Homo sapiens: one gene and its partner. The protein of the gene in region 1 purifies or fractionates together with the protein of each later gene. This does not show direct contact. Each region holds a gene or a part of one and is shown in the gene's direction. Other genes may lie near its edges. The genes, in order: POSTN and B9D1.

Region 1 (3,823 bases):
GGCTAGAAATGTACGCATTAATAAGTAAGTATGTACTGGGCTTGGATTACTCTTTGTTGTTTATGTACCACTGACCCACCTGTAAAGAAATGGCATCATTTCTTCATGGTTTTGTTCAACAAATATCTATTAAAAGCTACTCAGGACCAAGTATTGTGTAAAGTGTTATGAAAAATATGTATTTAAATTGGACATGTCTTTATTCAAAAAGTTTACAGTCCAATTTAGAAAAATAAAATGGTACATAAATGACTAAAATCGTTGTATCATTCAATACTTTCACTGCAGAATATAAAGGAAAGAACATTCACTTATAAAAAATTGTCACTCATCACAGATTAAAGGGAACGGAATATTTTTCTTCTTTTTCAATGTAGGGTAAAAGTAGCAGGAAACATAAAATTGTGTTTCATAAATATATTTAACTTTGGATTAATTATTATATAATTTTTAAATCTCTGAGTAATGAATCCAATGATTTTTATGCCCTCTGACCTGATAGCATTGAATTGGAAGATGATTTATATGAGGACTTCACTTCTATTAAGTGTAATAATAGCTTCACTATTTTTACTTTAATAAGAATTAAAGTGGTGCCATGGTTTTGTTAACACAACTATCACCTTTCATGTTACTAAATATAAACATTTATTTTCAGTTTGTTCGTGGTAGCACCTTCAAAGAAATCCCCGTGACTGTCTATAGTAAGTATATAATAAATATTGGCCACCTGGGTGGCAAGGTATGAAAAAAGAAAACAATACATTTCTTTGTATTTACAGAGATTATTGATAATCTGGTATTTAGAATTCCAAACTATGGCCAATCTCATTTCACTTGAAAAAAGGATTGAGGTCTCAGATAACCTTCAACTCCAATGAACTTCTTCCCCACTCATTGGAAAAACAGAAATGATATGACATGAGAAAGACAGCAAAATATAATATTAGCGTGGCAAAGAGCCAGGAAAATAAAAAGACATATAAAGGGAAGAGATGGCGAAAAGACCCTCTAGAAATATCTAAAAATTCAGATGTGTGGACACAGAAATGACCTTAGCCAAGACTTGTTGTTCACGCCACCCTCAAGCCCTGAGCTATCTAAGGGCAGGCTGAGAAGCACGTGTTGAAGAATACCAATGTTTATAAGGTGGCAGTTCAAAAACTCTCCCATCCAAAATTGGACAAAGGAACAAAAAAATCTGCCATGTGACAAATTTAAAGTTTCCAAATTCCAGGGTTCTTTGATCTCTGACACAACCAGATTATCAAAATTAAACCTCTACTACTTAACAATGATAAAGGGTATTTCATTCTCATAAGTGTAGCTAGTAGTATATCTTTTCCATCATGGCTTTTTCTCTGTTTATCTTTTCTCTCTTTCTTTATTTCACTGTAGCTTTCAAGCAGAAATTCTTTTCATTTTGTTTTGGCTCTGTAATTAAACACTCAAAGTGTATCAGTAGCTAAAACATTACTTCAATACCCACATTTATTCTGGCTAGAAAATCATTCCATTTTATACCATGAGCATCCAGTTATTTAATTAAGAAAATTTCCCTTAAGATTTATACTAGATATGGAAAAGGAGTAAAGCCAATGTAAGGAGCAAAACAAAATGTCTGCTGCTGTTGTTGATTTCAATTATGCAATAATAACATGCAATTCCAGGATCAGGCCAGCTCAGCACTGTATTAAAGATTTAATTGGAATAGTTATGATTCACCATGGGAATACAATCTTGTAAAAAATATGTTTTCTGAAAATTAAGCAATCCTTATGGGCTCTATTCATCAGACATGTTATGTCATCTTTCTTCATCAAAGGTATAAATATATACATATGCATATATATATATACACATTCCCACTACATTTCTTTAGCTTCCCTTCTTTATCCATCTTAGTTTCACTACTTTCTATATATGTGAATGCAATATCTTGATTACAATGAGCAAAAATATAATTATTTTCTCCTACTAAATTACATCCTCACTCACAGAGCATAAGCTACATTTTATTAAGACACACATGTTCAATGGTCCTTCCCTACCTACCCAGAGGCCTTGAAACAGCTCTAACATTTACATTCCAATGTAAGATGTTTCTTTTACTCCTCCTTAGACGGTATGCTGTTATTAAGAAGTATTTTAAAGTAGAAGTAAAGATAAATTAAACCAAATTTTCTATTTTTATATTTCGTTGTTGACTTGTTTCTAAAATTCCTATAATTTTTTGCTGCATATTATCCTCATCCCCAAAATAACATCCATTTTAAAGTGTATAGTTGAGGGGAAGGATGCTGTTTTTGGTATAAGTTGTCAAATATGGAACATTTGACCTGGAGAGGGCTAAAATCAATATTTAATCCTCAGAGCTTCACCTGTCAAAACTATTTAAGTCTGCAGAAAATCAAGATTGAAATGAAAACTACCAACCAGCTGAACATCCAAAACGTCAAATTCCTTAACATGATGTAAAAAATGTAAGCTAAAAGGAATTAGTCCATTTTGATAGCAGCAATAGAGAGCCCTGTGTATTCGTATTCGACTTTCATGGAAAGGTTCTTCTGTGGCAAGACCACCTGTGGAACTAGTACCTAAACACACAGATTTGTTTTATTTTAGAGCTTCACAATTTGAGATCTCAAAATACAAAACCTAATAAGGCTGAAACACAGGGTCTATGAAGGCTAAGAACCCACATTAATTCAAAAAGTTGACACAGCTAAACATCTTACAAGCATGAGGTGAGAACTGCAGAAACCAAAGCTGTGCTAACATCTCACCTCTACTGCTTTGATGTGATCTAGATGCACAGTTAGCTTCAGTGTGGCCCGTTATCTAATAGAACCATCTTTCAAGGCTTTTCATTAGAAATGACAAAAAGCCAGTTGCTCTGGCTGTGTGGCTTCAGAGGCACATTTCCAGTTAATCAGTACAACCAAAGTCAACCAAATAGTTGACTGGTATTTAATTTATTTTAATTTACTTTTATTATAGATCTAGGGGGGTACACACGTAGGTTTGATAGATGGATATATTGAGTAATGCTGGGGTTTAGGCTTCTAGTGAACCCATCACCCAAACAGCAAACATAGTACCTAGTTCAAAGACTATTATCTTACTTAGGTAGACGACACACGTTTAAAATATATACCTTTAAATTAAAAAAAAAAAAGGATAGTGATAACAAAGCTGAAAATTAAAGACATTTTAGCCTATAACTTAAATACTGATCATATCATGTTTGTTGAATAGAGCTCATGTCTGGCTGGCTGAAATTTATTCTTACTTTTAAGTATTCTGAACTATGTTTCATTTTTTCCTTTCTATGTCACTGTTATCAGATGCATGAAAAACATTTTAAAAGCCTTTTTCTTTCATTTTTTCTTTTAATTGAGAAAGAATCCAGCAATGCAATTTAAGATATTATGAATTGCATGACATTAATCATATTTGTCTTCTGTTGCAATGCAGCCAGTATTTTCAAGAAGTACAAAAGAAGGTAAAGCGCTTTAGCGGTACAATTAAAAATTACAGATTTCTAGATATAATTCCTCACTTTGTGAGTATATATTTCACTAGATCAAATTCAAGTCACTAGACTTCAGAGTTCAACACCTGGACATGAGAAGATATTATATTATGTACCATAAATATTTCCTGTATCTGACTGCCTGAACATATTACCACATCCTGTGCCTTAGTATCCTACAGAGACAAAAAAGAAAAGGAAAAAAAAAAAAAACCTTTGTTCAGGTTTTTATGTAAATATTTTTCATGTTCCACTTTCTATACTTTCAGCAACTAAAATTATAACCAA
Region 2 (3,823 bases), on another chromosome or scaffold:
CTCAAAAAAAAAAAATGTTTTTAATGAAGAAAAAAGAAAAAGACCATCAAGTAGAAAACCGGGCAAGAGACTTGAGTAGGTTCTTCACAAAAGAGGACATCCAGGTGACCAAGAAACAGGTAAAGGTCTCAACCTTATTTCAGTAAGAAAAATCTAAAATGAAGGAAAATATAAGTTAAAGCTACAGTGAGCTACCACTATTCTCTCACTAGGACGGCTCAAATTTAAAAGATTGGTAATGCCATGTTTTCGTGAGGTACAGAGGAGCAGGAATCAGATACCACTGCTGGGGGAGTGCTGGCTGATAGGACCATGCTGGCAGCTTGGTGTTACCTTTTGGGAGGGAACATACATGGGCCCTGTGCAGTGTCATTCTTGGGTGTGTGCCCACCAGAGATGTGTGCACGCGAGTACCGAGAGCCTGCGCCATGGTGCTCAGCACTGGGTGCGTGGCCCCCAGAGGAAGGGCAGCCCATGTGTCCATCAGCACTAGAATGAACAGTCATTGTGACAGATTCCCACGCAGAATGTTATATGGTATTGAACATGAACACGCCCCTTTACAGGAAACCATTTGAGAAAATCTAATGGACATAATTTTGGATTAGAGTCTGGGCACAAAAATAAATGTACTGTATAATTCCTTTTGTATAAACTTTCAAAAACATTGGTAAAGGTAAAGTACCAGGTTTGGGATGCATTCTTTGGCAGTGAAGTCTTAAAGAAAAGTAAAGAGGTAGTTTCCTAAAATTCAGAATAATGGTTACCTTTGGTGGAAGGTAGTAATGGGAAGGGCACAAACCTCTCCCTAACATTTACTGAGCACTCACTATGCATTAGGTACTATTTCATGTGTTTTAGAGATGATGAAACAGGGGCAGAGAGGTTGGCTAACTTGCCTCAGTCGTGGCTGCAGGATCAGAGCCTGTCAGGCCGGCTCCTAGTCCCTCCCTGGGCCTCACCTGAAACTGGCGAGGTGAAAGTGCCTCATGCGCCTCAATGGCAACACGAAGCGGGTGTAAAAACAGCCACACCTATTATAGTACCTATAATATTTTAAAGGAAAATGCCCAGAAGGTTTTTCTTTTCTCTCTGACTTCTAGACACCCCCAAAATGAGCCCCTGCCACCTCAGTCCCATGAGCCCGCCTCCATCAGGAAGGGAGCACCCAGAGAGCAGAGGTCCTTAGTCGGCCCTGATCATAGCTGGGGCCCTGGGCCCAGATAAGGCCTCTGGAAGTGCCTCCTTGTACATGGAGTGACTGAGTGGGCACTGACTCCATAGCGGTGAGAAGGGGTGTGGAATGTGTGCCCAGGCCTCAGTGGAGACACAGGAAGTACCAGGGTGGGCAGAAGTCTTTGGCACAGTCTGGGTTCCCATGCCTGCTCCTGTCCCCTCTCAAGCCTGCCACCCCAGAGTTTTGAGCTCCATCCTTTGAGCACCCTCAGCTGGACACGCCCTGTTCTCTGCCCTGCACCTCCCCTGTGTGTCCTCATGTGCCCACCCCCTGCCTTGTCCTTCCCAAGGGCCACAGATCGTGCTCAGCGTGTATGGACCAGATGTGTTCGGGAACGATGTGGTTCGAGGCTATGGGGCCGTGCACGTGCCCTTCTCACCTGGCCGGTAGGTCCTCATTCTGACCTGGGCCCTGGGCAGGACTTGTCCTAGGACAGACTTCACCTCGTTTTCTGTCTTAGGTTCAGGCTGGGAATGCTCTGGGGTCTCCAGGGGCCTGGGCAGCTCAGCCTGGTGGCCAGGGGGGTTGTAGCCTGTATTTGGGAGGAGAACCTTTCAGATGGGTGGTGCCAGCCACACACCAGGTGGGTTGGGGAGGTAGTGGGACCCAGAAAAGAAAAGACCCTGAGGGACTCTGACCTCCATGAGGCTGTCTCCTGGCGCTCAGCACCTTGCCCAGACACAGGGGGTGCTCAGTTAGCACAGGTTGGATTCGTTGACATTGGCCCTGACTTGGCCCACGCTGCAGCTGCACTGGCCTGATCTGAGGGTTTCTTCTCCCTGGAGGCTCAGAAAGGTCTCTTACTCAGCATCTCTGTCTGCAAAAACATTTGTTTCAGGCACAAAAGGACCATCCCCATGTTTGTCCCAGAATCTACGTCTAAACTGCAGAAGTTTACAAGGTGAGTTTTGTACCCATAACCCCAGCCCCTCCTGATCTACTGGATGAATGGATGTCCCATTCTACCCCTCAGTTTGTGCCTGGTCGCCTCCTCAGATCTGCAAGCTGCTCCACCCACTGAGGACAAATAGAAACAGGTCCCCTGGGAGTGCTGAGTCACGGGGCTCCCTTCAGCCCTGTTCCAGCAGCAGAAGGCCGGGCGATTTTACCCTGTGCCCTGTGAAAAATCTTTGTGTCTGAGGGAGCAGAGGAAAAACTCTTGTCAGATGGGAAAAATGCTCATGACATAATGTGACATTAAAAGGTGGGAAACAAGAGGATATAGCAGTATGAGTCAGACACCTTGGAACAGTAATCATGATAAATGCCTTTACATGTGGGAGTCTCTGGCCGGAGCTGACATTTGCGCAGAGGCTTAGTGTGGAGGGAAGAGCCGGGGAAGAACATCAGGCACAGGGAACAGTGCCTGCCAGGCTGAGGAGAGCGTGAGCTTAGCATGCTAGAGAAGCCAGGACGGTGGTGTGGCCAGGACGGCAGTGTGGCCAGTAAGTGGTAAGCCAGGCAGAATGAGGGAGACATCAGGGAGGCAGGCAGGGGCCAGGACACAAGGGCCTGCAGGGAGGGCCCAGGGGATGCCTGGATGCAGCCCCAGCATGAAGGCCTCTTACCCCTGCTCACATCCAAGTGGGAGCTTAGAGGGCCAGCTGGGCCCTGGCCTTCTGACTCGAGGACCATTAGCGCAGTTGGGCAGCAAGCCTCTGCCGCCCACCGGCAGATTAGTGAGGCACAAGTGGAACATGGAGGACTCCCTGGGTTCCAGGGCAGCAGCCGGCAAGCAGCCCCTGCGAGCCTGGCCAGTACTGGGCGTGAGACCAGGCCAGAGCCCTGCTGGGTGGAGGGACAGCATCGCGCCCAGGGCCGAGAATGCTTCACTGAGCTCTGAGAGCCGTGGAGGGGAGGAAGGGCAGGGTCTCCGCTGGCCTCAGCCTGAGAATTTGTGTGCCTACTGCCCCTAGGAGTCCTTCTGGGAGGCCACCCTGTAGCAAAGGACTTCTTTCCCAGATGACCTGGGCCAGTATCACCTGGAGGTGACAATCCCCATGCCACAGGCTGTCAGGGAGGCAGCGAGGCAGTGCCCATCAGTGGGTTGGGAAAGCCTAAGAGACTGGGGACCCACACAGCCATCCAGGCTGGGTTATTCACCCTGTTCCACCGCCCACAGCTCCAAGGAGGACTTTGGGCCTCCAGGGGACAGCTCGCTGAGGAAAGGGTTTCACAGCCCCTGTGGAGGGGCTCGCAACTGGGCAAGGCAGTATGTGCTTGGATTACAAAAACTGGAGAAAGTTCTGATTAGTGAAGGCAGTTTGATTGGCAGAATCTTCCCAGATATGGAGGCTCCTTGCTCAGGCTGACACCTCGGTCATCCCCACCCCTCTCCCAGCCTCTCCCCACATCCTCCAGCGCTGGCCTAGGGCCTGCCCCAAACACTCTTGGCCACTGTATTCGTTTCCCACGGTGGCTGCTGCAACAAAACACACAAATGTGATAGCTGAAAACAGCAGAAATGTATGCTGAAGGCCAGAGTTCAAAATCCAGGTCACTGGGCCCAGAAAAGGCACCACAGGGCTGTGCTCCCTCCCAAGGCTCTAGGGGAGACTCTGTTTATTGCCCTTTCAGTTTCTGGTG

What was found.
Region 2: the proteins of POSTN (region 1) and B9D1 purify together in Homo sapiens (affinity purification with mass spectrometry, with the first as the bait; one large-scale study listed by BioGRID). This does not show direct contact.

What each region holds. Positions count from the first base shown.
Region 1 is NC_000013.11:37,574,634-37,578,456, reverse strand, and holds part of POSTN (periostin isoform 1 precursor), read left to right. Parts: intron 1-658; coding exon 659-704; intron 705-3,804; coding exon 3,805-3,823. UniProt on the Homo sapiens protein: Induces cell attachment and spreading and plays a role in cell adhesion. Enhances incorporation of BMP1 in the fibronectin matrix of connective tissues, and subsequent proteolytic activation of lysyl oxidase LOX.
Region 2 is NC_000017.11:19,345,584-19,349,406, reverse strand, and holds part of B9D1 (B9 domain-containing protein 1), read left to right. Parts: intron 1-1,526; coding exon 1,527-1,623; intron 1,624-2,075; coding exon 2,076-2,138; intron 2,139-2,210; coding exon of another isoform or gene 2,211-2,268; exon of another isoform or gene 2,269-2,457; intron 2,458-3,823. UniProt on the Homo sapiens protein: Component of the tectonic-like complex, a complex localized at the transition zone of primary cilia and acting as a barrier that prevents diffusion of transmembrane proteins between the cilia and plasma membranes.